4 linked regions of the Homo sapiens genome follow. The protein of the gene in region 2 interacts with the protein of the main gene of each other region in a pairwise test. Each region holds a gene or a part of one and is shown on either strand. Other genes may lie near its edges.

Region 1 (7,734 bases), on a different chromosome or scaffold from region 2:
TCACTGTGATCTGCTGCCACAGCAAATGGTGGCATTTAGGCACACAGTTCCAAAGGTTCTATACCAGTCACGTACTGATAAGCCAGCCCTCTCTCTAAAAGAAAGCTTTGATTGGTAGCATTTGTGGACTTTCATGGGACATGTACTGTCGCCATGGCTGATTCAAGACACCACATGAAATCACTGAATGAGGACTTAGAAGAGATGTGCATCAGAAGCTCTCAGAAGCTGGTGAGCCACTCCACTTACCACTGGAACAGTAACTGGGGACGGTCCCCAGAAAGCCACAGGAAGACTTCTGCCAATCTTGTGGGCAGCCTGGGGAAGCCTCAGCTCTCACTCTGAAGATTTTGAATAAGTAAAATGATTTATGTTTCTCTGATTTATGGCAGCCATCCCATCACTTTGGATGGTTATCTAGGCTGTCCGGTGGAAGGTTCCCTCAGAATAGCCCTTGGCTCCTCTTAGGAACACACCCCATTGCCTTGCCTCAGGCTAGGACAGCCTCTTGCATAGGCAAGGCAGCTCTATAGGGCTCATGCAATTAGTTCTGCAGAAAGCAATTCAGGTAGAACCATCCCGAGAGGAAGGATGAGAGTTGTCGGTGTCACAGCTATTCCTCTGTCCCTCACTTGGATTCAGGCAGTACCTTCTCCCCAAGTTCCAGGAAATCATGAACACCAAGGAATCTGCCTTTGCTGGACTGGGCCTCAGCCAGAGATCAGGCCCAGCTAGAAGGTAGCAGGCATCCCTGAAGAGATGGTGGAATGGGGGTGGAAAACCAGTGTGAGACTGGATGTGCCCACTTCTAGCTGTGGAGCGACTCTGCTCCTCAGCTGGGGCATGGGAAACAGGTCTTGCAGGGCAGAGCAGGAACAGTTCTGGAGGAAAGGGGTCTTGTCCTGGGGCAGAACCCCTTGAGAAGCTTCACATTTATACATCTTTGAGTCTTTCTCCCAAATTGTTAACATGTTGCTGAGCAGAGAATCAGCAGTCAAAAACACATTGAAAGAGAAATGAGACTTTTATTAGCTCCAAGAGCATTTTTCAATACTAAGGCAAAAAGTAAAAAGAAGGACAAGGAAAACCAAGGCACAAAGAAGGGACCTAGGCGCACCCCAGAACTCACCACGGACACACAGCAGAGGGCTTCTCTTCATATCAAGGGTATGGGTAAACAAGAAAGGCTGCTGTTTCACTGAGACAGGACGAACCACCAAGTCCAAATGAGAAGACAAGCAGAGACGTAGTGTCAGACCAGGAGGGTTAGAACTTGCTAGTGTAGAGGGCAATAATCCACTTGGGCACACGGAGGAAGGAGGGCAGGTAGGAGGCCAGCCAGCCCAGGCCGGACACGTGTGAGAGAACAGAGCTCAAAGACAAATAGTCTTGGACGGGGCGGCCTGGGAACAACAGGAGGAGGAGGATTAGATTCTCATTTCCCACTCCTCAGATACCCTCACCTTGGCTGGAGAGACCGAGGGAGGAGTGGGCAGGGAACAGAGGGAACAGCAGTCAAGGCTGACTGCTGTGCCAGGGTCCTCACCGTCCACATCCCGAAGGCCATAGCGTCGAGCAAGGTCACAGGATGGCAGCACCTTACCACTCAGGCTCAGGATATTGGGATCTGCGGGCACACAGACAGGTGGAGATGGCAGGCAGGGGAGTATGCAGAGTGACAAGGTTTGGGCCCAGTTGGACAGGGCACTGCTGAGAGCCCTGGAGCTCAGGATCCCTGGAGAGCTCTTTCTCTTGGGCCTTGGACTTTTTCCACACTTCCCAGGAGCCTGCTCCTAAGGCTCTCAGACCTCAAACTGGGAATGCTGACCCCTTGGGCCTCAAAAAGCAGAGAAAAGAATGACATGTTCCTCAACCAACTCCCGAGCCAGATCTGGGCACTGGATGCTACCGCACTACACATCCTCCATGCCCTTTCTTATTACCAGCTGCCCCCAAACTTCACCTGTTGCCAAAGCCACCACACATTTGCCACTCAATTCTGTGGTTTCCGCAGATGAGAAGGCTGATTTGAACTGAAACACAGGGGCAGAGAAGTGAAGGGTTAATTTCCAAGAGCACTGCCCAGGTCTCCTCCCCATTTCAACTTCTGTTCCAGGAGAAAAAGACCAAAGACCAAAGAGGCCAAAGACCTCAAGCAGGGCCTGTAGGACCCAAAGTATTGGCAGGTGCCAGAGCCACTCCTCCCCACATCCAGGTGAGCCCTGTGCCCTGGCACCAGGATCTGCTGTCTTTGCTAAGTGGAAGGATCTGGTAGTGCCAAATAGTGTTTGGACCTTCTAAGCTAGCTGGTGTGGGGGTCAAGTGCATGGTCTTTGGAGCTAGACAGCCTTTCCACTTAGGACATATGTGACCTTCAACAAGTTTCTAAACCTCTCTGGGTTTCAGTTTTGCCATCTGTAGAATGGAGCTGGTATCTCCCTTACAGGATTAAAGGAAATAATGTGTGTCCCATGCTCAGCCCTGCACCTGCCACAGTAAGCACCTGGTGAGTGGGAGTATCTGATCTTGTTATTGAGGATGCAGAGGCCGACTCCCCTGTTCTCTGCTTCCTTCGCCCTCCCCTTGCCAACCTGCTTCAACACAGGATCCTGCAGGACCTCCTCCTTTGCCATATGCTCCTTCAGCAGTTCTGTCTGCACAATCCCCGGCCACAGAGACACACAGCTGACCCCATGGCGCCGCAGCTCGTGGGCACAGTCAGCAGCCAGCTTGTCACACTGTGGAGAGGCGGAAGGCAGGGTAAGAGCCACCTAGCCATGTCACTTTCCTGCCCTGCCCTCTCTGCTTCTACTGTGAATGCTCCACCCACCCTGTCCTTCCCAGGAGCCCCAAGGTCTCAGCTGCCCACGCTCCCCAGTGTGATGCCTACTCTAGCCAACCAAGAGGAGCACAAGCAAAGGAACTGTCCATGGATGAGGCAGAGGAGGAGCTGAGAGGAGCCAGCCTTACCATTCTGACCACTGGGGATTGTACCTCCTGAGCTATAGGTAACATCACTGTCTTTTACCTCCTCAGCTCCTATGCCACTGGGTCCTCACCGCAGCTTTGCCCACACCATAGGGGACATTGAACATATACTGCAGGCTTCCTGGGGAGGAGATGACCACGATGAGCCCCTGGCCAGCTGGTACCATCAGCCGTGCCCCATACACTGAGCAAAAGTAGTGGCCTCTAGAAGGTGGGGCAAGGGAAGAAGGAATGAACCGTGTTAGTGCTGGCCTGGGTGCCACAGCCTCTGGCGGCTTCCCCTGCCTTCTGGTGGTTGTTGTCCACTAGGAAGGCTACACAGGGTGGGTTAGCGACCTGAGGAATTAGGGGCTTGAGGCCATATTCTGAGAGGAAAACTGGTCAAAATAACCACTGACAGATGAGAAACAGCAATCTTTGGAAGAAGAAATGGAACGCAAGAGCCCTGTCACAATAACAATTACAAACAAAATTGTTCAGGGGGAGAAAACTTAAGAAATGTATAGTGTCTACATAGAAAAACTATAAAACCATGACAATAAGTACAGACAAAATCTTTCAAAGCTAAGAACTGACATGTAAATCATCATTTCTATGTAAATCAATCCATAGATTCAGTCAAATTGGATTATAGCTCAATAAGACCTTTTGGAGGAATTGATAAAATAATCTAAAGCTCAATGAGAAGAATAAACGTGAGAACAGCCAGAAAAGCTGGGCACGGTGGCTCACGCCTGCAATCCCAGCACTTTGGGAGGCGAGGGGGGCAGATCACTTGAGCTCAGGAGTTTGAGACCAGCCTGGCCAACGTGGTGAAAGCCCATCTGTACTAAAAATACAAAAATTAGCCAGGTGTGGTGGTACGTGCCTATAGTCCCAGCTACTCGGGAGCCTGAGGCAGGAGGATCTCTTGAGCCCAGGAGGCGGAGGTTGCAGTAAGCTGAGATTGTGCCACTGCACTCTAGCCTGGCTGACAGAGTGAGATTGTCTCAAAAATAAATAAATAAATAAAAAGAAAGAGAACAGCCAGGAAAATTCCGAAAAAAGGACTAAAAAGACTAATGTCTTGTGGGTGAGGGGGATTGCTTTCCCTACCCCTGCTGTCACCCATATTAAAATGCACAGGGGCCAGGCATGGTGGCTTATGCCTGTAATCCCAGCATTTTGGGAGGCTGAGATGGGAGAATTGCTTGAGGTCAGGAGTTTGAGACCAGCCTGGCCAACACAGCAAGACCCCGTCTCTAAAAAATAAAATAAAATAAATTAAAATGTACAAGACATAATAGTTAAAAGAATGCAATACAGGTGTTAACAGTAGACTGATAAGTCAATGAAACAAAACAGAGAATAATTAGATACAAGTGTATGTGAGAACGCAATGTATTACGAAAGGAACCTGTCAAATCAGTGGGGGAAAGTTGGATCATTTGGGACAACCGACCAGTTATTTGAGTTAGGGGAATTGGGTCTCTGCCTCGTTTATTATTTTAAAATTAAGCCTAAAAGGATCAAATATTTAAATATAAAAAACGAAAGCACAGAAGTACTGAAAGAAAACATGATCAAATGTGTTTATAAACTTGAGGGAAAAGGCTTTTATTAGCGTCACACCAAGACAGAAACTATAAAAGACTGACAGATTTGACGTAAAATTAAGATACACACACATACACACACAAATACAAAGATACATGTATATTTCTGTGTATATAAAGAGCAGGGCGAGGCTGAGTATGGTGGCTCATGCCTATAATCCCAACACTTTGGGAGGCTGAGGTGGGTAGATCACTTGAGATCAGGAGTTCGAGACCAGCCCAGCCAACACGGTGAAACCCCGTTCTCTACTAAAAATACAAAAATTAGCCAGGCGTGGTGGCAGGTGCCTGTAATCCCAGCTACTCGGGAGGTTGAGGTATGAGAATCGCTTGAACCCAGGAGGCAGAGGTTGCAGTGAGCTGAGATTGCACACTGCACTCTAGCCTGGGTGACAGAGCGAGATTCCACCTCAAAACAACAACAACAACAACAACAACAACAACAACAACAGACGAGTGGGGGGAGTATGCGTGTGAAAAATGAGTGATAAATTGGGAAAAATATTTGTAAAATAAATGCCAAAGTCATTTGTTTCACAGTGATCTCTTATAAATTAATGCGAAAGTCAAAGATGATTTACAAAAGAACAAAGAGCCAATAAACAAAGGGGAAAAAAAGTTCAACCTGACAAATAGTGGAAGAAGTATGAATTAAAACCCCTTTATATATTTTCGGCTTATTATAGTAACAAAGCTTGCCTGAGTGCATGAGCTGACGCTGCCTGGTGTGGTAGAGGACATGGGGAAACACATATTCCCCTTCATTGTCTTGATATAAAAAATTGGTAGGGTCTTTTTGTAGGAGAGCTTGATAATATTTATTAAATCTTTAAAAAGTACATATTCTTTGTTTTCTTTTCTTTTTTTCTATTTTTCCCACAGTCTCTATAACCTAAGGGAAGTACATATTCTTTGATCTAAGAATTCCACTGCTGCAACAAATAAGGGATTAGAGAAATAAATGATCATACATCCTCCCAATAGAATACGTACAAGTATTAAAAAGAATGAGAGATATTTACATGAAAAATCTGAAAGAATATATGCCAGGCTATTAATAGTAGCTATATATCAGGCAAGAGAGCAAGGGATGGCACTGAGGGGAATAAGATTATACTGGTCTTCAGATTTTTTCCATATTTAAAAAAAGTAACACACACATAACTTGGTAACCAGAATAAATTTCTTTTGCATAGGGAAAGAATTAGGACCTTCCAAATGAAAACAAGTAGAGTTATAGTTTTAAAGGAAAGTGCAGCCCAAGGTAATACAGAGGAAAGGCAGTAAATGCGCATGGGGAATGGGTGGGCAGGAGGTGCTGGGGGGCTGTCAGGGGCTCATCAAGGGGCCTTTACCTTGGATAATTCATCAGGGCCCAAGGTCGAGGGTCTGGGCCTCTGCCTTGAATCTCTGCTTCAGGGTCAAAACCCTGGCCAGCAAGAGATGAGGGTGTGGAAGGCACCTCTCTTTGGAGGCTATGGTCATGAACACTGGCCAATTTCCAGCTCTTAACGTGTCCCTTTCTTGCCTTTGGCCTCACCATCCTCCTCTGTCCTAATGATCTTCCTTCCACTTTGGAAATCACAATTGCATTCTAATCCTGCTTCCTTGGGATTGTTACCAGAGTACCAAAATTGGAGCGGTGGGTGTTCTTACATGCTTTAGTCACAGATTTGCCGATAATCTCGTGGTTACTCCCACAGGTGACTGATCACATCCATCAGGCATGACTTGATTATATGAGAGTGTAACATCATTCCAACAGTAACAGAGGCATAACTGGTGTGCATTATGCTAGGCGAATTCTAAATGCTGTGTTTCATCTCACTCCTGGGCTAAATGACCCTGTGTGACCCAGTGATGTACCTGCTCTCCCAACTCTGACCCGGCAGTGCCCTTGCCTGTGGGTGTGGAGTGAGGATGTGGAGACTAAACAGCATTGGTGTTCGCTCCTTCTTCTTAAGCTTCTCCCAGTCTAAAATAAAACAATTTCTCCCTCTAACCATTTTGAAAGTATAGACTACAGGCTGTGCGCATTACTGAGAGGAGGAGGCTTCCTCCCTTCTGGGTCTTGCATTTGGATGGGCAGAGAGTGAGACAGGAGAGAGGCCAAGGGCTTGTTCCAATGAAAATTACTGACAGAGTTGACATTCTCAGGTACAGACTCACCTGGATGGAACTTCTCCAGAGGTAAGTGGGACAAATGGAATGGAAGGGAGAAGAAAGAGATGGGGGAGGCCGGAGGGAAAAGGAGAGGGCATGTAAGGAAAGGCCTGGCCGTCGAGTTGGCTAAGTGAGTGAGGGAACATGGGTCCTGGCAGTGGAGCACCCACCTGAGTCCGACGTTGTTGATATCATCCCACATGGAGGCAGGGGTTTCCCAGAATGCCTTATTCCTGGTGTTCAGGATCGTCTGGAAGGCACAGGGAGGGTGATGAATGATCTGAAGGTAGGGAGGTGTGAGGGGCTGGGTAATGGAAGGGACAATGAGTGGGGATGAAGATGCAGGGGTCTGAGGGGGAGGTCAGAAATGTGGAGTTGGGAACAAAGTTCAAAGGGTACCTGGACCCCTGCATAAGCATTGTTGACCAGCACATCTAGACGCCCTTGCTGTTCCCGATCCACTTGCTCAAACAGGCTTCGCACTTCACTCTCCTGGCTTGAATCGCACACCACAGGCACACATTGGCCCCCGAGGGATTGTGCCTGGAGTAGGACAGGGGATATGAGCTCACATTCACACATGGGTGTGAGTCATGACAAAACTCCCCAACCAAAGTGGGCTTGAGAACTGAGAAGACAATCAATCCTAGGAGAGCCTGCTGCAGAGGCAACATGGCAGGCAACGCTGCCCTCTGGTGTCTGTTTGAGTAGTTTCAGGAATGATAGGCCTCCCCACCACAGAGCAAGGTGAATTGCAATGTAAGTTTTAATAATCTACAAACATTTACTGAGGCCCACCATGTGCACAGCATTGTACTTTGCAAGTAGAGGGTAAGAACAAGTGAGGCATGGAGTCTGCTCTTGAGAAATGAGTAAGCATCCTTTTCCTTGTTGTGGTCATTTCCATCTCTCATGCCCTTAGCTCCCACCCTACACTACTCACCTAAAACCTCTACTCAGTCCCAGTTGTCTTACCCTCACTCCACCA
Region 2 (8,051 bases):
ATGACCTTGTGGAAAAAGAACTGATTTGGCTCAATTATATTGGCCTTCTAGGGGTAAATGTAATTTAGCCACATGATTTTGAGACAAAAATCACTTCTTTACACTTAATGTGCCTGCAAATGTTAACATAAAACAGTTGGGACAGGTAAGGCATGGTGGCTTACTTGAGCCCAGGAGTTTGAGACCAACCCTGGCAACATAGTGAGACTCTGTCTCTACCAAAAATTAAGAAGTCAGCAGGATGTGGTGACATGTGCCTGCAGTCCCAGCCACTAGGGAGGCTGAGGTAGGAGGATGGCTTGAGCCCGTGAGGTCAAGGCTGCAGGGAGCCGTAGTTGTACCACTGCACTCCAGCCTGGGTGACAGAGTGAAACTCCATCTCAAAACAAAACGAAACAAAGTTGGAACAAATAATCTGAGATATATTTCCCAGTTTTAAAATGACAATTTTTCTCTTGAATTGGAAAACTATCGTTCCATAATATCAAAGAATAAGGACTCATCTAGTCCTGTATCTAGTAACAAATACTTTTACTTTAACCTTCATTCTGTTGTTCACAAACTTGCACGTGAAAAGATCTGGGATATTTATTTTTCTGAGACAGGGTCTTACTCTGTCACCCAGGGTAGAGTGCAGTGGCAAAATCACAGTTCACTGCAGCTTTGACCTCATGGGCTCAGGTGATACTTCCACCTCAGCCTCCTGAGTAGGTGGGGCTACAGGCCCATACTACCATGCCTGGCTAATTTTTTGATTTTGTAGAGAAAGAGCTTTGTCATATCGCCTAGGCTGGTCTCCAACTCCTGGACTCAAGTGATCTGCCCACTTCAGTCTCCCAAAGAACTGGAATATTTATAATTTTTGAAAAGGTTAAGTTTCTTAAGGTGTAGATCTAATTAGCTCACAATTCTGTCCAAATGTTTTTGTTTAATATATACTTACTTAAAAAGATTGTCCATCAGGTATCTATAGTTAGGCTGACTACTTTCAGGCATGAAACAGACAGCAAACACAACAATGGCATTTAATCCATCCCCATAATATCCTAAAAAAGAAACCAAAGACAGTATCACCAGCACGATTTTACTCTTAGGCATTTTTAGAAGACATCTGTATGATTAGTAAATTATAAATAAGAGTTTACTTTTCACAGATTTCTGTATTAAATGTATGTTTTGTAAATCTTATATGGTCTTATATAGAATTTTAATGTCTTCTTCCCAAAAAGAGAACAGTAAAATTTAAAGAGGACGGTGGACAGAAAAAACAAAAAAACCCAAGACCACTTAAATTCGCATATTTAAAAAGCCAGCCCTATTTTAGCAGGTAGACAAATATAGTGATATAACCCAATACAATACAGACACAATACAATAACTGCAATGTATTTTTATTTATTTCTATGATGCTTATGGTTAAAGTGGGTGCTTTTTTTTTTTTTTTAGATGGAGTCTCGTTCTGTCGTCCAGGCTGGAGGGCAGTGGCACAATCTCGGCTCACTGCAACCTCCGCCTCCTGGCTTCACGCGATTCTCCTGCCTCCCGAGTAGCTGGGATTATAAGCGCACACCACCGTGCCCGGCTAATTTTTTGTGTATTTTTAGTAGAGATGGGGTTTCACTAAGTTGGCCAGACTGGTCTCGAACTCCTGACCTCGTGATCTGCCTGCCTCAGCCTCCCACAGTGCTGGGATTACAGGCGTGAGCCACCGTGCCCGGCAAAGTGGGTGCTTTTTTAAATTTTTTTTTAGAGGATAGCATCTTGCTCCATTGCCCAGGATGGAGTGCAGTGGCGCAATCACAGCTCATGCAGCCTTGAACTTCTGGGCTCAAGGGATCTTCCCACCTCATAGCCTCCAGAGGAGCTGGGGATACAGCGCACACAAACATGCCTGGTTAACCTTTATAAAATTTTTTTTGTAGAGATAGGGTTTCACTGTGTTGCTCAGACTGGTCGTGAACTCCTGGCCTTAAGCAATCCTCCTCCTTTGGCCTCCCAAAGCACTGGGCATGAGCCACATCGCCAGAGCCATAAGTGGGTGATTTTTAAAAGGTAAGTTTATATTTAAAAATGCTAGCATTTTGTAGAAATTAGGACATTAAAACTAAATTAGGCCGGGCGAGGTGGCTCATGCTTGTAATTCCAGCACTTCGGGAGGCTGAGGTGGGCAGATCACTTAAGGCCAGGAATTTTGAGACCAGCCTGGCCAACATGGCGAAACCCCATCTCTACTAAAGATATAAACAATTAGCTGGGTGTGGTGGTGTGCACCTGTAGTCCCAGCTACTCAGGAGGCTGAGGCAGGACAATCATTCAAACCTGGGAGGCGGAGGTTGCAGTGAGTCGAGACTGCACCACTGCACTCCAGCCTGGGCAACAGAGCAAGACTTGGGTCTCAAAAAAAAAACAAAAACAAAAACAAAAAAACAAACTAAATTACATCTCTGACATAATTTTCAGTAATGGAAAACAGCGCTAAAATATGTATGTTTCAACAGCAGTCTTTAGATATTAAGCCAATATTTAGTAGCAAATACTTCTGCTTTAACCTTCATTTCTATTGCTTACAAATTTGCACATGAAAAGATTTGAACATTTCAAGAACATCAGAATCTTCACTACCTTTCTTAATCACTCAGTCACAAAATATATTAAGTGTGGTAATGCAATAAAATAAGGTGGTCTTATTTTCCCCTATAAAAAAAGTGCTATTTCTGAAAGATAAGAGATTTAAGCCATAAATCAGGTCTTATAATTTGATTCCTGTGAACTAGCTGAATAATGTATGTCTGTGGACTTCCTGATGCAGATTACGCCATTTTCTTCATCTGAGTACGATTAAATTAGGCAGAAGAATGCAACTACAAATATTCATGTGATTTGCTTTCAGATGAATGAAGACTGTAGAAATAAGCAGGGGAATGCATCTGGCAGAGAGTAAATCAAGTGGAAATGACCCTGAAAAAAAATCAATCTGCTTGACCCATATGCCCTCCGTCCTGTGTTAGGAGGATTTAAGGTAGTATGACATGCTCTACAGTGAGTTGTGTTCTGACTTACCACTAACATTCTAGCACTATTTACAATGTGCCTAGGTTAACTTCTATATATGGTACTGTTAGATTGAAAGGATTTATAACTTAAACTTTTATGGCTTTTCCTATTTCTTAAGGGCAGGGACTTAAGCCTTGTATTTTTGTATATCCCATAAGTATGGAAAGTGGGTGCTGTATAGAAGTGTGGAGTGAACTAGTTCTCTATTAAAAAATAATTTGGCCTGGGCACTGTGGCTCATGCCTGTAATCCCAGCACTTTGGGAGGCTGAGGCGGGCAGATCACAAGGTCAGGAGTTCGAGACCAGCCTGGCCAATATGGTGAAACCCCGTCTCTACTAAAAATACAAAAATTAGCCAGGCGTGGTGGCGTGCACCTGTAGTCCCACCTACTTGGGAGGCTGAGGCTGGCGTATCGCTTGAGCCTGGGAGGCAGAGGTTGCAGTGAGCCGAGATTGCGCCACTGCACTCCAGCCTGGGTGACAGAATGAGACTCCATCTCAAAAAAAAAAAAAAGAAAAAAAAATTTGTTCACGGTTTTAAGGCAAATTAAGAGTTAAGGTTAAAAAGTCCAAGTTTTAGGGCCGGGCACGGTGGCTCATGCCTGTAATCCCAGCACTTCAGGAGGCTGGGGTGAGCAAATCACGAGGTCAGGTGATCGAGACCATCCTGGCTAACATGGTGAAACCCTTTCTCTACTAAAAATACAAAAAATTAGCTGGGCATGGTGGCGTGCACCTGTAATCCCAGCTACTCGGGAGACTGAGGCAGGAGAATCCCTTGAACCGAGGAGGCAGAGGTTGCAGTGAGCTGTCACGCCACTGCACTCCAGCCTGGGTGACAGAGCAAGACTCTGTCTCAAAACAAAACAAAACAAAAAGAGTCCAAGTTTTACTTATATCCATAAATGACTTCTACAAGAATGTTCAAAGCAGTTTTGTTTATAACAGCCCAAGCTGGAAACAACTCACATGCACATAAAAAAAAACGGATAAGCAAATTATGGTTTATCCAAGCAATGGAAAACTACTCAGCAATAAGAAGGAATGTACTGTGGATACGTGCAACAACATGGATGAATCTCAAAAACTTCATGCTGAAAAGTAAACAAAAGAGTGCATAGGATGATTTTAGTTACTATATATGAAATTCTAGAAGAGGCAAAACTAATCAGGGGGTAGATATGACAGTGGCTACCGAAGCTGAGTATTCATTGCACAGGGGTACTAAATAATTCTTCTGGGACAATGAAAATGTTCTACATTTTTAGGGGTATGGGTTTTATATATATGGGTATATATGGTTATATAGGCATTTGTCAAAACTCATTGAACTGCACACTTAAGATCAGAGCATTTCACTGTTTATAAATTAGGGAGACTGTTCAGTCCCAGTTTTGGGTAGCCTAGAGACAGTTTAAAAAATTTTTTAATTTTGAGACAGGGTCAAAAACCAAAACAAAACAAAAAACTAGAGTGCAGTGGGATGATCACGGCCACTGAAGCCTCATCTTCCCAAGCTCAAGCTCTCTCTCCTCCCACCCCAGCCTCCTAAGTAGCTGGGACTACAGGCATATGCCACCACTCCTGGCTAATTTTATTTATTTTTTTATTTTTTTTATTTTTTTGTGGAGACGAGGTCTATGTTGCCCAAGCTGGTCCTGAACTCCTGGGCTCAAGTAATCCTCCTGCCTCAGCCTCCCAAATTGCTGGGATTACAAACCTGAGCCACCGTGCCCAACCTGACAGTTTTCACTACAAATTCTTTTGTACTTTTTCAACTTACTGTATGCATATAATCATTTTTAAATGGTACTTTTATTCTTTTACTTTAAACCTGTCATGTTTCTAAAATGAATGAGAAATGCTTATTATTCTTTCAAAATTACATAATATCTCTAGGCAGAGTTTCTAAAAGTATTTAGAATTCTGATATTGCATGAAACGGCTAGGGCAGGCGAGCGCAGTGGAGTGCCGCGCGGTGCGGTGCGGGCGGCAGAGTTGGGGTGTCATGGAGGATGAGCGGAGCTTTTCGGATATCTGCGGTGGCCGCCTGGCCCTGCAGCGCCGCTACTACTTCCCTTCCTGCCGGGAATTCTGCCTCAGCTGCCCTGGGCTCTCGCTGCGTTCGCTCACCGCTGTCACCTGCACGGTGTGGCTGGCAGCCTACGGACTCTTCACCCTCTGCGAGAACAGCATGATCCTCTCTGCTGCCATCTTCATCACCCTCTTAGGTCTGCTTGGTTATCTCCATTTTGTGAAGATTGATCAGGAGACTGTTAATCATTGATTCCCTTGGCATTCAGATGACTTCATCTTATGCTTCAGGCTAAGAAAGCACTACCTTCATAGAAATGGGCAAGGTCAAGGATATTGTCATCAATGAGGCTATTTACATGCAGAAGGTGATTTACTACCTCTGCATCTTATTGAAGGATCCAGTGGAACCACATGGGATATCCCAAGTAGTACCCGTCTTCCAGAGTGCCAAGCCCCGGCTGGACTGCTTGACTGAAGTATACAGGAGCTGCCAGGGGATCCTGGCACACCAGAAAGCCACATCAACAAGCCCATGAGCCCCAGCGTTCAGAAGGCCAGCATCGTCTTCCATGGGAGATGACTCTTAAGCCATAAGGGTTGGTTTTCCGTACTCCAAACCATCAGGTGGACACAGTCCTAGGAACCATTATGGATATAGTGCATCTCAGAGCCATAGAGCAGGTGACTGGAAATCTAACTCAGTATATTTCCACGTATTATAGTGTTTTCCTTGTAAGGTTTTGCCTACTTTACCAAAGGAGGGGAGACCTTAAGAATTTTGACACAGTATGTCAAAAGTAATGTCAGCAAAGAACATTGGGAAATTGCTAAGCATGTTCAGGTTTACTTTGTTGATGTTTGTGAAGCAAAACAATGGGAAACTGACATCAGATGTCTTGAGAAAGCTATATTTTCCATTAGTGCCCCTTGTGTAAAGTTACAAAAAAAACAAGCCCTCCAGGAACTGGTTAGCAGGAAGAAATGTCCTACAAAAGACGAGTCTCTCAACCTAGCGCCTGTGTTCTGTACAGGGCTTATTTACTCTTAATAAACAGATATCCTTCCAAAAAAAAAAGAATTCTGATATTGCATTAAACAATCTGAAAAATCCTCAGTAACTCTTACCCCCATGGCTGATAACTTTTTTATAGGGTTCAATTGCCTTCATATCAACCCTGTGGTCCTGTTCTCCAATCCTGAACATACGCCAGCGTCGTCCATCTTCTTTTTCCTCTGCTGCTGTGTATTCAGTAATTGAGCCTTTCCTAATTACTTCAGTAGTCTTGGGTTTTGGAAGATCATCTGTCAAAATACAAAGTTTTTGAATCACAAATTGTTACACAACAAAAATCAAATTATACGTTAACCACTTTACTACCTAGATTTTACAGAGAATTTTCATTATACCATCTGCACAATTTTCAATCTCTCTTCCATAAAGGAGGAAAAGGCTTATTCTTAACATGAGGCTGTTTTATGTCTTTGGAAATCATGGTTCTTTAACTTTTATTGCCCAATTTAGCAAAAACCACCTAATCATAGTGAAACGTGTATCCACAAGTTCAGAAAATATAATTTGTAGAGTCATCAAAATCTTAGTACACTGGCCTTACAATGCCTTTCCAGATTCAACTTGTGACAATATTCTCCCTGGCAGTTATGACTATAGGTTACTTCAAGTAGCTATCTGGGAGCCAATTTTGTTGTTGTTGAGCACATAAATTAACTGTAATACCAGATAGGAAGTGGTTAACTACTCAATGATCACTTCTCATTTGATCAGTTTTATAAAGCAGAAATGTATTTATAATACTTTGAAGTATACATGCAGAAGTCTATTTAAATTAGCATTAGCCAAAGCATAAGCACCAATGATTAAGTGTAATTTATGTTTTGAGATTGCAGTTTAGCTGATTTTCAATGTAGTAATAATTTTCAAAATTTCAGTATTATAGTCCTTACCAAAAGATGGGGGGAGGGGGAAACCTACTGCATGTTAGTTGTTTCCAAGACAAAGCTGTTAACGGAAAATATCCTTCCAGGAAATGACTACAGCAGCATTAAAGAAAGAAGAGACAAAACACATAGGCACAAAACTATTTCAGTATCTTTACAAAGTATTGCTTACTACTGGACTGTTTATTGAACCAGTAAAACAGGGAAGAAAAAAGAAACCAAAAATATAGCATATCACACTTTATTACAGTAAAATACTGAATGCTAAACACTACTATGAAAACAAAATCATTTTCAAGATGGAAAAAAATATGTAAAAATTATAACAACTATATATAAGATACTGTAGACAATTTTGTAATTAAAGAAAGCATGCAAAGTAAAACAGCACAATTCCTTTGAATTACAAGTAATAAGGAATACTAGGTTCGGGGGCTAAAAGTATACATTAATTTAAGTTGGTCATTTCACAAAGTAGAGCAATGTCAGGCAAACCTACTTAAAAAGTCACCCCAAATGCCTCCTTTCAGAACTCCCTTCCCACAAACTGTTAACTATATGTCTCTTCAAAAGTTTCTTACTTGATTGACTAAAAAAGAGCATGCCATAATTATCAAGAAATATTTTTGAAACAGCTATGAAAAAAACATGAGAGCAGTGGGCAAATAAGAGGGGAAAAAAGCCACTGGTGTACTCTATACACACTTTTTAAGTCCTTGAGAATATTCAAGGGTTAGCACAATTTCCTATCTTAGTAACAAATATATGAACTTTAGAAAGAATGATGTATTTCAAACAAAATCCCTTAGTACATTAATAAAGATCAGATTAAAAACAGTGAAACATTTACCTTCCCACTCAAACTCATTACTATTCTCTGACGGTGTGTCTAAGCCATCTAAGTCAATCTCCCCACTTTCATCCAAATCATCTGACAATACAGAGCCATCACTAGGATCCAGTGTCAGGCTAATGTCTGGAGCCATTAGTTTCTTTCTCACTT
Region 3 (7,774 bases), on a different chromosome or scaffold from region 2:
TAAAAACCACTCACCTGTAGACTCATTTCCTCCCCAACATTGAGGCCAACGTGCCAGGGCACAAACCCGCATGGCCCAGGAGAGAGCCGGGGGGTGGGGCCTGAGGGTAAGGCTGTAACCTTCTCCCCTCACCCTCGGGGCCTCAGAGTCACTGAGCACCAGACTTGCCCCTTGGGGGCTACGGTGAGTCCCGGGTCTTTCTCAGAAGTCTGCTGGGGGCTTGTCCTCACAAAGCAGACAGAGCCGTGGGGGGAGACAGGCCTTGATGTCCCTAAACCCACCGGGGCGAGAAGTGAGCCAGGTCCCACACCCCCAGGTGAGACGCGGCACTTACCAGTGGTGGTGGGTGGTGAGCACTGTGGTCAGTTTCACCCCGTGCTTTCTCGCCGCGTCCACGACCTGCAGTGGCCCCGGGGAAGGACAAAGGCCTGTCACACTCCTAGGCCTGGCTTGCTGGCCTATATGGTAGGGTGCCCAGCAGAACCCAGGACACGCCATGAGGGGCCGCTGACATGGCCCGTCCTGACCCTGCCAGCTTGCCCTGCTCCAGGAGAGCCAGTGAAAGCACCTTCTCCTTCCTGCTCAGCCTGACACTCTTGCAACCACCTACGACCGCTCCAAGCCCCTCCAGCTCTGAGGGCACCACCCCCAGAGGCAGCATGCAGGGGCAGAAAGCCCCCAAGAAGACTCAAGTGCCCAGGATTGTACTGCACAGCGCTTTCTGTGTCACTGCCTCTCGCCTCCACCCTTCTTGGAGCCCTGTTAACAGAGTGGCCGGAGACTAATTTCCATTTAGCTTAGGCAAAGTTGCAAGGACACTGCGGTTAGGAAACCCATCGGGGGTGAGGACTCCGAGCTGGGTGACCAGGGCAGGGAGAGCCAGGCACAGCCATGCGCACCTTCTGGGGCTGCACCGGATCCACAATGGCAGCCTCCTTGGTCTCATCATCAATGACCAGGTACATGTAGTTGTCGGTCAGGGCAGGCAGCACCTCTACCTTCATGGTGCCCTCGTCCACGGTCAGGTTCTTCCGCAAATCTGTGTGGCAGAAAACTCCCAGCAGGGCTGGACCTGCAGACACAGAGCACAACTCAGCGGGCAGCCGCGCCAGGCCCTCCACGACAGGACGCGCAAGCTGCAGTGCTTCCCAGCCTTTCTAGGTTCCTTTGAAAAGGAATATTCTGGCCAGGTATGGTGGTTCTTGCCGGGAATCCCAGCGCTTTAAGAGACTGAGATGGGAGGACTGCTTGAGGGCAGGAGTTTGAGACCAGCCTGGGCAACATAGCAAGACCTTGTCTTTTTTTTTTTCTTTTTTTTTTGAGACGGAGTCTCGCTCTGTCGCCCAGGCTGGAGTGCAGTGGCGCGATCTCGGCTCACTGCAAGCTCCGCCTCCCAGGTTCACGCCGTTCTCCTGTCTCAGCCTCCTGAGTAGCTGGGACTACAGACGCCCGCCACCATACCCGGCTAATTTTTTGTATTTTTTAGTAGAGACGGGTTTCATGGTGTTAGCCAGGATGGTCTCGATCTCCTGACCTTGTGATCCGCCCACCTCGGCCTCCCAAAGTGCTGGGATGACAGGTGTGAGCCACCGCGACCAGCCAAGACCTTGTCTTTGCAAATTTAAAAATTAGCCAGGCATGGTGGTGCATGCCTGTGGTCCCAGCTACTCCGGAGGCTGAGGCAGGAGGATCACTTGAGCCCAGGAGTTTGAGGCTGCAGTGAGCTATGACTGTGCCACTGCACTCCAGCCTGGGTGACAAGACAATAACCTGTTCCTTAAAAAAAAAAAAAAAAAAAAAAAAAAAAAGGAATATCTTCATATATCCCTGAGGAGAACACAGGAACTAACTCATGCTCACATTCATGGAAATCAATTGTTTCAGACTTACGATCTCTATTTTCTTTTTTGAGAACTCTAAAAGGACAGGAAGGCCAGCTTGTGATTGTGAGGCGAACCACTGCCAGTGCTGGATTATTCACACCCCGGACTCAGGGACAGAATGTGAAGAAGGGAACACAGACTAGGGGTGCCCCCGCCTGGCCATCTGCCCTCCAGCAAGCTGTGCTGCCACCACTGACTAAGCGAGCCTGCGTTCCATGCAGTTACAGCCCTTCTCAGCCTCTAGCCAGAAAGAACCAATACTTGACGGCAGGCTGAGGCAGGAGAATTGCTTGAATCCGGGAGGTGAAAGTTTCAGTGAGCCAAGATCGCCCTACTGCACTCCAGCCTGGGCAACAGAGTGAGACAGTCTCAAAAAAAAAAAAAAACAAACAAACAATACTTGCTCTTGAACAGCACGAATCTGAGATATGCACAAAAATCAGCAGTTCCTTTGAGACGGAAAGTTGGCCACAACTGCCCCCAGATTCAAGTGTGGAGGACACAAAACCACCATCCAACTGACCCAAAGGACTCTGCCACAGGGGCCCAGAAGGCCCAAGAGCTGGGAGGAGTGGGTGACCAAGGGACAAAAGTGTCTGCCACCCAGTCGACCAATGCAAAAATATTTTCAGCAATGAAACTCCTACTAAATCTAAAAATACCTGGGGGCCCCGACAATACCTTCAGTTCCGCTCTACACGGGGAAGAAACCACAGAAGGTGGCAGAGGACAGTGCAGTCCTGGGGTAGGTGCCACGGCAGGGGCTTCTCCCAAAAGGGATCCAGAAATGGGCAGCAGCCACCAACTGACAGACACACGCGTCTCCAGGGCCCACCGAAATGCGGAATCCGACCTTATTTCCACAGCCGGGGAAACTGCCCAAACTATAGTTTCAATCACTGCACAAAGATATCCTATTACCCGCCTGACAACCAGCTGGGCATTTTCCAGATCATTCTCCTCAGGAACAATAATACCAAGATTTCTATATGAGCAGCTTCCTGTGTTATTCCCCTTCCCCTTAGCCTCAGCACCACCCCAGCCCAAGGAGCACAACAAGCAGAGTGTGGGTGCTGGGGGCTGCAGGTGGGGTGCAGAAGGGTTGTGACAGGATTCCGAGTGCCGGGCGTCCTCCTGGAAAGGAGCTCCATTACAAACAAGGAGCAGAACATTACAAACAAAAATACTGCCCACGTGCGGTGGCTCACGCCTGTCATCCCAGCACTTTGGGAGGCCGAGGCGGGCGGATCGCGGGGTCAGGAGTTCGAGACCAGCCTGACCAATATGGTGAAACCCTGTCTCTACTAAAAAATACAAAAATTAGCTGGGCGTGGTGGCGAGCGCCTGTAGTCCCAGCTACTCAGGAGGCTGAGGCAGGAGACTCGCTTGAGCCCGGGAGGCAGAGGTTGCAGTGAGCCGAGATTGGCCACTGCACTGCCCAGGCGAAGAAAATGTCATTTACAACTGGTGCTCAGCCTCCCCTGGAGACCATCACAGCCTCCTGAAGAAGCTGACAACCCAGGGAGGTGCCTTTATTTCTGAGGAAAGACGCAGCTGGTGCCAACACCAGCAGAAACCGTATTCCCTTTCCATATCACTCAGCCCAGCACTGCCTGGCAAATGTTCCCGGCTTGCTGTTTTGTAACTGTAATACTTTGTACAAACAGGTCAAGGACCTGCAGCCTGGGGCCTGGACCAAGTCCAGAAACATGTTCGGTTTGGCCCCAAAAACAAAAAAAAATTGAGATATGGTCTCACTCTGTCCCCTAGGCTACAGTGCAGTGGTGCGATCAAGGGTCACTGCAGCCTCGACCTCCTGGACTCAAGCGATCCTCCCACCTCAGCCTCCAAAGTGACTGAGACTACAGTTGTGTGCCACCACGCCCGGCTGATTTTGTTTAGTTTTTGTAGCGATGAGGTCTCAACATGTTGCCAGGCTGGTCTGGAACTCCTGGACTCAAGCGATCCTCCCGCCTCGGCCTCCCAAAGTGCTGGGATGACAGGCGTGCGTCACTGCACTTCTTTTTTAAATCAGGAAGTTTCACAGCATCTTGCTTCCCTTGAACTGGGCGGCACCAAATACGGGGGCTGGGGCCTCCCTTAGAATGGGGTACGCACGCCCTGCCGATGCACACAGTCCCGCTGGAACTCTCTGCCTGGACCCTTATGAATGTCCCTAAAACTGTAATTCTGAGGACCTCAAAATCCATGTCCTTTCCTTAGCAATGGCGACATTCTACCCCCTGCAGAGCCTTGACAGCTTTCGGCGAGATCTGGAAACCGCCAGGGACGCCTCCCTGTCTGCGCCTCCGCCCGCCCAGTGCCCTGCGCTGCGCACCCGCCCGGGGCGCTGGCCTGGCCCGGCCGCGCGACCACCTCGGGCGAATGACACGCCGGGTCCCCAGACGGGGGCTCCGGCGCCGGGCGGGCAGCTCCACCACCGCAGGCGGCGCCGCGAGACCGCGGTCCTTGCAGCGGGGCAGCAGGTGCGGGGTGGGCCAGGCGTCCCGGGGCCCTGCCCGCTGCGCCTCAGAGCCGCGCCCCAGGCTCTCCTCGGCGCCGGCCCGGGCAGGACGCGATGCCCTGGAGGCGTCAGGGGCGCGGCCGGCCCAGCCCGAGCGTGGAGGCCGCGGCGGACGCAGGCCTGGCCCTGCTTACCTAGCGCTTTCCGCACCCGCGGCCCCGCGCCCGCTCCGCGCCAGCCTCAGCGCCTGCGCCGCCTCCGCTCGAGCCCGGCAGCGCGGCCTTAGGCACCTGCGCAACAGACACCGCGTCAGCGGTCGCCAAACGACGGCCCGGCGCCGCCCGCTGCCCGCCCCGCCAGGCCCGCGTCCCCCGGCCCGCACCGCCCCGCCGCACCCACCGAGGCCTCGGCGGGCGCAGGCGGCTCCCAGCGCGGCGAGGCTGCGGCGGCCGAGCAGCCCTCGGCCCACCACCATGACCCGGGCCGGGCTGGACTGCCGAGCTGCCCAGGACTGCAAAACACCGGCGTCGGCGCGTCGCAGCCAATCAGCGCCCGCCTCGCGCTGCCCTCAGCCAATCAGCGTCCACCTCGCACCGTCCGCCAACCAATCAACGCGCTCGCGCTCAACTTGTTTTGTCCGCGAGCCCCGACTGCCACGGGCCGGGAGACGGGCCTGGGAGCGGCGGCGGCGGCCCGAGAGCTGCGCCGGGAGAGCTGTGCCGCGAGCCTCCGCCTCTTTTTTGGCACCGCACAGTGGATCCCTGGAGGCCGAGCGCCACGCCGCCCGGGTACCCGGCAGATCGCGAGGTGGAACGGGCCGTCGCTGCGGGGGACAGCGTTCCGAGGCAGTTGGTCCTCTCCGGGATGCCGTAGGCATCAGCTGACCGGCCCAGCCCACGTGACTACAGGGGCACTTGATGGGAATCATGGCAGCATCCAGGCCATTGTCCCGCTTCTGGGAGTGGGGAAAGAACATCGTCTGCGTGGGGAGGAACTACGCGGACCACGTCAGGGAGATGCGCAGCGCGGTGTTGAGCGAGCCCGTGCTGTTCCTGAAGCCGTCCACGGCCTACGCGCCCGAGGGCTCGCCCATCCTCATGCCCGCGTACACTCGCAACCTGCACCACGAGCTGGAGCTGGGCGTGGTGATGGGCAAGCGCTGCCGCGCAGTCCCCGAGGCTGCGGCCATGGACTACGTGGGCGGCTATGCCCTGTGCCTGGATATGACCGCCCGGGACGTGCAGGACGAGTGCAAGAAGAAGGGGCTGCCCTGGACTCTGGCGAAGAGCTTCACGGCGTCCTGCCCGGTCAGCGCGTTCGTGCCCAAGGAGAAGATCCCTGACCCTCACAAGCTGAAGCTCTGGCTCAAGGTCAACGGCGAACTCAGACAGGAGGGTGAGACATCCTCCATGATTTTTTCCATCCCCTACATCATCAGCTATGTTTCTAAGATCATAACCTTGGAAGAAGGAGATATTATCTTGACTGGGACGCCAAAGGGAGTTGGACCGGTTAAAGAAAACGATGAGATCGAGGCTGGCATACACGGGCTGGTCAGTATGACATTTAAAGTGGAAAAGCCAGAATATTGAGTTATTTCTTAACAAGTTTCGAGAGAGAAGGGAGCAAGACAAGAGCAAGCAACGGCTATTAAATGTCACAATCCTTTAATTAGAAACCATTTATTGGCCGGACGCGGTGGCTCACGCCTGTAATCGCAGCACTTTGGGAGGCCGAGGCGGGCGGCTCACGACGTCAGGAGATCCAGACCATCTTGGCTAACAGGGTGAAACCCCGTCTCTACTAAAAATACAAAAAATTAGCCGGGCGTGGTGGCGGGCGCCTGTAGTCCCAGCTACTCTGGAGGCTGAGGCAGGAGAATCAATTGAACCCGGGAGGCGGAGCTTACAGTGAGCTGAGATTGCGCCACTGTACTCCTGGGCAACAGCGAGACTCCGTCTCAAAAAAAAAAAAAAAAAAAGAAACCATTTATTTTAAAAATGATTAGATTGCTATGCCTCAACTCATAGAAGATGAACCCTTCAAGAAAACGTGAAGTAGAACGGGTGGGCCAGAAATGAAAACAGGCAAGTAAAGTATTTCTTCGGAAAACATTTTATCAAACCAAATGTTAAAAAGACTTTCCTTTTGTAAAACTGGATTAGAGAAGACTTTTCAGTGGGTTATCTCTAGGATGATCAGTAGTTCAGCACTTAAAAACTGCAGAGAAAACTGAAAGTTATGTTCCAGATAACTTTCCGTTGTTTACCAAATTTTCTTAGATTTGGTCATCATCAGGAAGCATTTGTAAAAATAAAAATCTCCACAAATTACTGGCCCATCTCGGACTTGCTGAATCAATTTGATAGGATTAATCTCCAGTGAAGCTGTGTTTACAGGGCATTCCAAGTGATTCTTATCAGGAAATGTGAAAAACACTCCTGTACATAATCGGTTAATTTAAAATTTTACTTAATAAGTGAACAAGTAATGAAGATTTCACCTGTTTACTTAGGGTATCTACCCAGACCCATCGATTCTGAGTTCGGGAGATGATTTTGAAATTACTGTTTTCCAAATAAAGGTGCTCCCTTCTAAGTGGCTTACAAGGGTAATTTTTTTCCCCCCAGTAATGACGAGGAGGGATATTTCCTCCTTGTGGGGCTTCAGACCTTAGTCTTTGACCTTTGGCCTTCTGAGCACTGTGCTGTGTTAACACAGTTAATCAGCAACTGTACTTCCCAACCGGAGATAAGGAGGCTTTGTGGAAGTTGAATAGCCTGGGACTGCTGCTTTTGCTCTTGCCTGCACCCTCCTCTGAAAAAACATCCAGGCAAGATGCACAGCATAGCTGTCAATGCCTGGAGGAGTCCTTTGGGCTTCGGCAGGGGTTCCTGTTCGCGTTCACATCATCTGCTGGCCCCTGAAGAAAGCCTAGGACATCTGATTGAGTAGTAACGGTCCCCATGTATTGAACACAGTACTGTTAGGCACCATGCCAAGCAGTTTATTCTGTATTTCCACGTGTTATGTAACCAGCAACCAAGCCATAAGCTTAGTATGATCACTACCATCCCCATTACTCAGATGAAGACAGATCTAGAGGCTGCGAAGGCTGGCTAAAGTCACTCAGCTTAGTGGCAGAGCCGAGATGTAACCCAGCTCCCCCAAGACCAGAACGTGAAGTTTTGACCACAATGCAGGCTGCATCTTGTAAGTAGATACATAAGAAGAATCAGACACTTAGGTATGCTGCAACCCCATGCTTAAATTATAATATAGTATGAGGAAGTGCCATAATTGGATTTCTTTATTAAGTATCATGCTATCTTAACTACTTTTAGTATTATTTTTTCATTGCTTGGCAATGCATGTAATTACAGAAGAGTCAGAAAATAGAGATTAGCAATTAGAACAAAACACCAAA
Region 4 (8,051 bases), on a different chromosome or scaffold from region 2:
ATCAACTTGGCTTTTGCAAACTGCTTTGGGAATTGCTACAAACTACCCACTCCAGCAATTCAACAGTATGGCAAAATGACTAAGCTTGGGTATTGGAACCCCTCCTTGAAATGGAAATGATACAAGAAAATTAAACGTACAAATACACCCTTTGATGTACCTACTTAATATTAACAAACAGCACTTAATTAAACCACAGGAAAATACCACAAGTTATCCTCTACAAATAGAGAAACTATCATTCAATTCAATCCTACTTCAACTCAGTGCTGGACAAATGACAATTTTAACCCAACCAACTTAGAAAGTTCCCATGATTCTAATAATAAGGGATTCTAATAAGTAAGGGAGAATTCGCCTTCTTTGCCTATCTTTAAACTGAGACAATGCCTTCAGACTCAGACCAGACTATACCATTCATTCTCCTGGACTGTCAGAGCTTGCCAACTTGTCAGATCTTGGACTTCTCAGCATTCATAATCTCATGAGCCAATCCCTTATAATAAACATATACACACACACACACAAACACGCACATACAAATCATATACCTGTATATAAATGAAGCTATCTCCACATGTATTATAAGGAATATATGTCTATATATCTAGAGCTATATCTATACATACACACACACACGCACACATATATATATATATATATATGTAATTGGTTCTGTTTTTCTATAGAACTCAGACTAATACAGACCCCCTCAAGAACAGAATGTAAAAAATTAAATTTTTATCCCCAGAGCATTTAAAGTAAAAGAGAAAAATGAGATAATACTAAAATCAAAAGAATGCTACAACTCAAAGAGTCACTAGGGTAGGTTACTCCGATGTTGCATTTACAAACAAAAGCATGGTATTTTTTAAAAAATACTGTGTTTGCTATAAATAACTACTTTTATGTGAGTAAAACAGGGCAACTGTTGGCAAACTCTTTCTATAAAAGGGCCAGATGGTAAATATTTTTAGGCTTTATGGACCATACAATCTCTACTGCAATTACGCCACTCTGCAGTTGTAGCTAGAAAGCAACCATAGCCAACATGTGAACGAATGAGTCTAATTATATTCTAATAAAGCTTTCTTTATAGACACTGAAATTTAAATTTCATAAAATGTTCATGTGTCACAAAATTATTCTTTTGATTTTTTTTCAACCCACTTAAAAATGTGAAAACCAGTTTTGGCTTGTGGGCCATACAGGCCTAGGGGTTGTACTTTGTCAACCCCTAATAAAAAGAAATAAAAATATAAAATTTAAAAATAAAGGAATAAACATCTTTCCCAACCAGGCTCTAACAGTCCAACTTTTTTTGCTGGGCTACGTGTAGGACATACAACTTCCACATGGCTTTGACAGGTCCTCTTAGAAGTACTACTACAGATGTAGGACAGATGAAACAATCCTAATTTCTGTGCTCCACACGTGTTCATCAAACATTTTCATAATCTGCTCTCCACAGAAAGAAGCATAATTCCATGAGAAACAACAGAATGGATCCTCTTCAAAAGGAAGAAAAAAGTCCTTCCCATCCTGTAGATGAAGCTATCCATCTATAGCAAAGGTGGAAACAAATCTAGATGCTGTTATGTTTCCAAACCAATCCCAGGAAATGTAAAGAAACCAATAAAAATTAATCTCACTATATTACACTTCAGTAACTATAAAAATTATGTTCTTGGGAAAAAACTTACATTACTATTTCCTTTATGTGGGTGTTTATATGGGATTATTTTTATGATAGGTTTAAAAAAAGAGTGAAGTAAATGTGCATCTAATGCTTAACAAACTTCTAAAATTCCAAATATTTAGCTTTAAAAAACCTTGTCTTTAATAACAAGTTATTACTATTGCACATGCAGACGGCTGTCAAGTACCCTGTCTCCCCTGAATGCAACTATACACACATCTTTGCAAAGCTGGCTACATTTTTGAAATAACAAAATGGAAAGGAATAAGATGACTGCATTCATTTGAAAAAATATTAACATTTAAAAACTCAGTAGGATATCTGAGCTGCTATCATTGTGTTAGAAATATTGTAAATTTAACAAAATTTGGTGTTTTTAACACTAAAGGCTTGAAAGAAAAATCTAGTTACTAACTTGAGAAAGTATTTAATACTAGCAGGATACCGAATCCTAGAAGGTACACTCTTTTAAAAGAAACCACCATTTTAACACACACACACACACACACACACACTCACACACTCCTGTTGTACAGCTTCAGAGGTGGGTATGACTTGATCACAAATAAAGGGAGATTTTTACATGACTACCAGCAACTAGAAAAGTATCCCAGATTTTTAAAGAATCAAGCTAAACTCACATTTTGAAAAGGGAAAAAAAGGAACAAAAACAAAATTGGGGGTGTGGGGAGAGGTGATCCATATGAATTCTATAATACTAGGAATGACAAATTTTTCAAAAGATCACCAATGATTATGATGTAAATGTATCCACTCCTTCTGCAAAGTGTCCCCCAAAAAGCAACAGACCAAAAACTTATAAACAATGGGTCAAGTGAACCAATAAGAGTTTTAAAATAAATGTTTAATGTTCTATTGAAAATCTTGGGAAAAGAATACAGATGATCTATGCCTAGATTTTTGACAGTTTTCTGAATCAACATCATCTGGCTTTTCTTATTTTCTTAAGTAGCATCATATTGAAATTACATTTAAAAGAGAACATCTAAATGTGGCTAAGAAACAGAAATAGAATTAGAAGTATACTATGGAAAAGCACAAATGAGCCAGAAAGTGTTTTTAAATTTCCCCTAGAATGTTAACCAATGCCAGATATGAAGCAAATTGGGATTATACTAGGCAAGTTCAGCTTTCCTCCACAATCCACCATAAACTGCTCTACCTTGTTTTTCATTTGGCGCTCCTGACAGTGAATGGAGAAAAACACTTCGGAAAACTTCTATCTACAGCAATTTAGATAAAACTCCATTCTTCTAAGAATGAAATTGGTAAAATATAATACCTGCTTCTCCCTCCACTTAAAAACAGGTTAGCAAAAGTGCTCAGCTAAATCATGAAAGTGCCCCATCTAGGCCAACTTTTACCCAAAGACTTAGTGTAGGGAGAGGCAGCCAAGCCTGACAGGCCATACACACTACATTCTGAGAACATAAGTATTCCAACATGATTCATCTCAATGTTAAGAATTTCATAGTACAACCCCCTTAAATCAATGTGAATTAGCTAAAGAGACCTACAGTTATTCTTTTCAGAAATCTGGTATTTAGTGGATCAACAAGTATTTAACCATGTCTTCCAAAAACACTTCAAGGAGCTAAAAACTAAATGGATCTGAGCTCTTCTGCTCCTCTATACCCAAATATAACATGGCTAGGCAACTTTTTCCTAAAAAAGATATTTTGTTTTCCAAGCTACTACTACTGAAGGAAGCACCTTAAGCAGGTGGGGTTGCTCTTCACTGAATTCTCATTAATGGGGAAAGATTTGTTCTAACCTACAGATAAGCCCTCATTCAGTACCCAATATGCCACTACAGCATTTCTGAGTTGGCAGCCAGAGTTCAGGTTTACACTGACACAGATTTGGTGTTTACCCCAAATATTGCCATTACATCCTACCACTACTCAGTACAAGATGCTATGCGGCTGGTATATATGTGTATAATCACCTAGCTGGCATTAATGAGGGCTGTGGACTCTCTAACAGGAAAGTGGCAAAAAAAAAAAAAGGTAGACATCAAATGATTATGCCACACCTTACTATTTCAGTGGACTATAATTACAAAACAGGAATCACTGAAGTACAAGGAGGATAGAAATCAGACTTCTGAACTGAGCCAGCAACATCTAAATGACTGGAAATGAGTAGGATGAAATTAATATGGGGCCAAACTGGAGTCTATTACACCCCCATATACACCTAAGTTGCATTTTAAAACAAAGTCATCAGTACAATTTTCATTACAAATAGATGTCAACTAAGGACACCTTATATAAACTCCTCATTGCAATCAAATAATTTATATGGTAAAAGATCTGAAGAACTGTTGCTTTGTAATTTTTTAAAATCTCATATCTGCTATGCTTCATAATAACCTGTTAAGATAATAAGAGGAACCTCTGGTTGCCAGGCACTTAATACCCTATTTATTTTAACTAAACTCATTTTGCATCTTGCTTCCCTCATTTTAACTAAACTCAGGATAAGGCTTACAACCACATTTTTATTTCTTAGTAGTGAAACCACCATTGCAAAATTATAACTGAAATGGTGAAAAAGATCTGACCTAACCAACTCCATCTTGCTTCTAACCTCCAGGTTGTCCTTGTTCATTCCTGGGCATAGGCCATAACTTTGGGAGGAACTTAGTTTATAGTTTAAAACAAAGATGGTAACAGCCCTTTCCCAAAACAAACCTCCTTCTTGCCTGGGGACTAGACTGCCTTTGTAGGACTAACAAATTAGCCACAAGATTGGAAATTAGGGCTTAGGAGTCATGCAGCTGAAAGCTACCAGATTCTGACCCTTACCATCTGTGGCGTCATAGATTCAATGAAACATCATATGTTCTTTGAACCTCTTACTACAGGGTTACCTATAGCATGCACACCAGAATTACTAGTGTGTTTTTTAAAATGCAAACTCCTGAGCCAACTGCATACCTGGAGAATCAGAATCCCTAGGAGTGGGATTAAAGCTCTTGCATGTTTAATAAGCTCCCCAGATGACTGTCATTCGTGCTCAGATCTGAGAGCTTCAGATCTACAGCACACCAATCCACACACACAGGAAAGGCTGTGTGGGGCGGGGGGGGGGGGGGGGGGGAAGGTAAGGCAGATCTAAACCAAAAAAGTTCAAAAGTAAAATTCACATGACAAGATTTTTCATTCTTTCTGGAACAGTCAACCTGCCACCAGAATGGGTCTTCAGTTTTGGTGGGCAACAGATAAATCCAGAGAAAATGTGGTGAGGAATAAATAATCAAGAACTCCTGTTTGCAGGGGTTAAACCAGAGTACTAGATTTAATATTACTCAAATGTTTTCTTGCAGTTTTTATTATCTACCAAAGCAGAATTTTGCTTAAAAAGTTATAATCCACTTAACGAAATGAAATGGTGACTGGATTTCTGCAACCAAGACCACAAACATACCCAAAACAGAAAACAAGACAGAACTCTACAAAATGACATTCAGTTTTGCCTGCTATGAGTTCTACAATTGTTTAAACACTTGTGATCTAAGCTACCTTAATCCTATAGTACACCATCCAGGGAGAGATGGATAGATGAATGAATGGATGGACAGAAAGAAATAGCTATTCTTAGAAACAATGACAACAATAAAATGAAATATATTAACTGTTAGAGGTTGAACATAAATGGGGTAATGAAGTGTCCCACTCATAAACTGCTAAAATGAGATTAGAGAAAGGTACACATTTACATACAGTAGAACTGCTATCTTCATCTCATGTAACTATCTCACATTGTACTAGATGAGAAGTTATAGGTTCCTGTTCTACGTGTTTAAGAATTCCCTTAGGTATCCACTCTACTTATGCTGTTTTGAAGTAGTCTGCAGAATTTAAGTGCACCAGGGTAGACATAATTCCATCAGTCACACCCTCCAAATGAAGACATGGAGAAACAGAATGGTTCCATCGCCCAAGGGTCCTGGATGAAATGCAGTATTGGCACACCATTTGTACCACAAAAACTGAATGAGAATTAGCACTGCTGAAGTAAATTAAAATGGAAACCATGCCTGAAGAATCCCCGAGCAGACAAAACCAATTAGGCCTCATAAGTGACATCAACCTCACTTGATTTGCAAACATAAGCAAAATATGAAGTTACTTCTTATAAATGCCTATGCTAAAGAAAAAGAGAACTTAAGCTTAATCAATCAGAAACATCCAACAAACTTCTAATTACATATCTAGGGGACCTTCCAACACGACAGACCAAATAAAACAACTGTATAACTGCAGCCAATCAAATATTTTCTTTGCTTTACATCTGTGACCCTCCTATAAAAGCCTCCCTCCTGGATTCCCCTGGTGGAGCTCCCAGATCTGGTTTGGAGCTGCTCAATTCATGAATTGTTTGTTCAAATAAACTCTAAAGATGCTTCTATTGTAAAATTTTGTGAAAACGTATTGTATTAGTCCGTTTTTGCACTGTTATAAAGAAATACCCAAGACTGGGTAACCTATAAAGGAAAGAAGTTTAACTGACTCACAGTCCCACATGGCTGGGGAGGTGTCAGGAAACTTACAATCATGGAGGAAGGCTAAGGGGAAACAGACACCTTTTTCACAAGGCAGCAGGAGAGAGAAGAGAGAGAGTGCAGGAAAAACTTCCATTTGTAAAACCATCAGATCTTGTAAGAACTCACTGTCACGAGAACAACATGGGGGAAGCCGCCCTCATGATGCAATCACTTCCCTCCCTCGACACACAGGGATTACAATTTGAGATGAGATTTGAGTGGGGACGCAGAACCAAACCACACCACGTATCAACTGAACCAACTTAAAAATCCATTTTTGTTGACCTTGCGTCTTTCAAAACTCATTTAACAATCACTTAACTGCAAGTAATGAATGATATGTTAGGTAGCACACCTGACACCATAACACTACCTTAGCAAGCCTTGTAGAGATTATGACGAAAATCAATTTAGAGATGTTCATATAACTTTCTGAATAGCACACAAAAATTTAACAAATGAATAAACAAAATGCAGTACGTATCAACGAAATGATATATATGTAATGTGGTGTATATGAATGGAATATAGAATGGAATATTACTCACCCTTAAAAAGGAATGAAGTACTGATACCTGCTGATTTAGAGGACGAACCTCTAAAACATGCTAAGTGAAAGAAGCCAGACACAAAAGAACACATATTGAATTATTCAATTTTTAGGAAAATCCAGAATAGATAAATTTATGGGGGCAGAAAGCAGATCAGTGGTTGCCGAGGATTGGCAGGGAGAAGGGAATGAACAACTGCTTAATGAATATGGGGTTTCCTTTTGGGGTGATGAAAATGTTTTAGAAACGTGACGGTTCATAACATCATGAACGTGCTAAATGCCACACTTTAAAATGGAAAATCTGGCTAGGCATAGGGGCTCATGTCTGTAATCCCAGAGCTTTGGGAGGCTGAGGTCGAAGGATCACCTGAGGGCAGATTTGGCCAGCCTGTGCAAAATAGTAAGATCCCGTCTTTTAAGAAAAAAAATTATAAAATTAGTCGTGTGTGGTGGCACATGCCTGTAAACCTAGCTACTCCACAGGCTAAGGTGGAGTTCAAGGCTACAGTGAGTTATGATCACACCACTGCACTCCAGTCTGCAGAACAGTGGGGTACCCTGTCTTTGTAAATAATTTAAAAATAAAATGAAAAATTCTGTTACAGGAATTTAATTTAAAAAAGAAAATTGGAAGAAAAAACTCACTGAAGTTAGAAAAATCATGAATAGCGGATTTTCAAAATTAGATTAAAAATAAGGGAAATATAAGAATAGCTTCAATCAAATGGAGCAGGCCAATGAAGAAGAAAAAGAATATTAATGGGTACACTGGAAAGACTTAGGGGTATTACAACACTTAATTTCCTCCTCTGAGAGGAAGTCAGCCGATTGTGTCTCAAAGAATTGCATTAAAAGAAAGTACAAAACCTTTTAAAAGTTCAAAGATTTTGGGAAATTACCTGGTTCAGTCTACTCAATCAGATTAAAAAGGACTGCATGATATTAAGTAATTTAGTCAATGCCACTCTTGAAATAACTAAATACAGAATCAATGCTTCAAATCCTGATCATCTGATCCCAAGAACAGAGACGCTTCTGGACTAAATTCAAGACAAACTTTTGCTATTATACCAAGGTCGCACAAAAATCTATCTAGCTCAGCGCTAACATAAAAATCTTTTGCTATTTGGGTCTTGCACCTTTCAGCTTTAAGAAATGGGCATAAAAATAAAAATAAAAAAGATTCCCTGCTTTAGAGAAAATAAAGTAGCTTTGTGAGTGCCCAG

The links.
Region 1: the proteins of BNIP2 (region 2) and DHRS1 interact in binary tests that used the Homo sapiens proteins (3 or more experiments, as listed by UniProt).
Region 3: the proteins of BNIP2 (region 2) and FAHD1 interact in binary tests that used the Homo sapiens proteins (3 or more experiments, as listed by UniProt).
Region 4: the proteins of BNIP2 (region 2) and FAM3C interact in binary tests that used the Homo sapiens proteins (3 or more experiments, as listed by UniProt).

Annotation. Positions count from the first base shown.
Region 1 is NC_000014.9:24,289,593-24,297,326, forward strand, and holds the end of DHRS1 (dehydrogenase/reductase SDR family member 1), read right to left. Parts: intron 7,290-7,734; coding exon 7,146-7,289; intron 6,997-7,145; coding exon 6,917-6,996; intron 3,193-6,916; coding exon 3,060-3,192; intron 3,009-3,059; exon of another isoform or gene 2,739-3,008; coding exon 2,592-2,738; exon of another isoform or gene 2,447-2,591; intron 2,034-2,446; coding exon 1,964-2,033; intron 1,628-1,963; coding exon 1,547-1,627; intron 1,404-1,546; coding exon 1,267-1,403; 3' UTR 1,006-1,266; downstream 1-1,005. UniProt on the Homo sapiens protein: NADPH-dependent oxidoreductase which catalyzes the reduction of steroids (estrone, androstene-3,17-dione and cortisone) as well as prostaglandin E1, isatin and xenobiotics in vitro. May have a role in steroid and/or xenobiotic metabolism.
Region 2 is NC_000015.10:59,671,694-59,679,744, forward strand, and holds part of BNIP2 (BCL2/adenovirus E1B 19 kDa protein-interacting protein 2), read right to left. Parts: coding exon 7,899-8,051; intron 6,395-7,898; coding exon 6,218-6,394; intron 1,047-6,217; coding exon 944-1,046; intron 1-943.
Region 3 is NC_000016.10:1,821,966-1,829,739, forward strand, and holds FAHD1 (oxaloacetate tautomerase FAHD1, mitochondrial), read left to right. Parts: upstream 1-5,240; 5' UTR 5,241-5,264; coding exon of another isoform or gene 5,265-5,273; coding exon 5,274-5,939; 3' UTR 5,940-6,945; downstream 6,946-7,774. Other genes in the region: HAGH (hydroxyacylglutathione hydrolase, mitochondrial isoform 1 precursor), read right to left, coding at 335-399, 900-1,072, 4,747-4,822. UniProt on the Homo sapiens protein: Tautomerase that converts enol-oxaloacetate, a strong inhibitor of succinate dehydrogenase, to the physiological keto form of oxaloacetate. It is thereby required to maximize aerobic respiration efficiency by preventing succinate dehydrogenase inhibition.
Region 4 is NC_000007.14:121,386,048-121,394,098, forward strand, and holds part of FAM3C (protein FAM3C precursor), read right to left. Parts: intron 6,881-8,051; exon of another isoform or gene 6,821-6,880; intron 5,315-6,820; exon of another isoform or gene 1-5,314. UniProt on the Homo sapiens protein: May be involved in retinal laminar formation. Promotes epithelial to mesenchymal transition.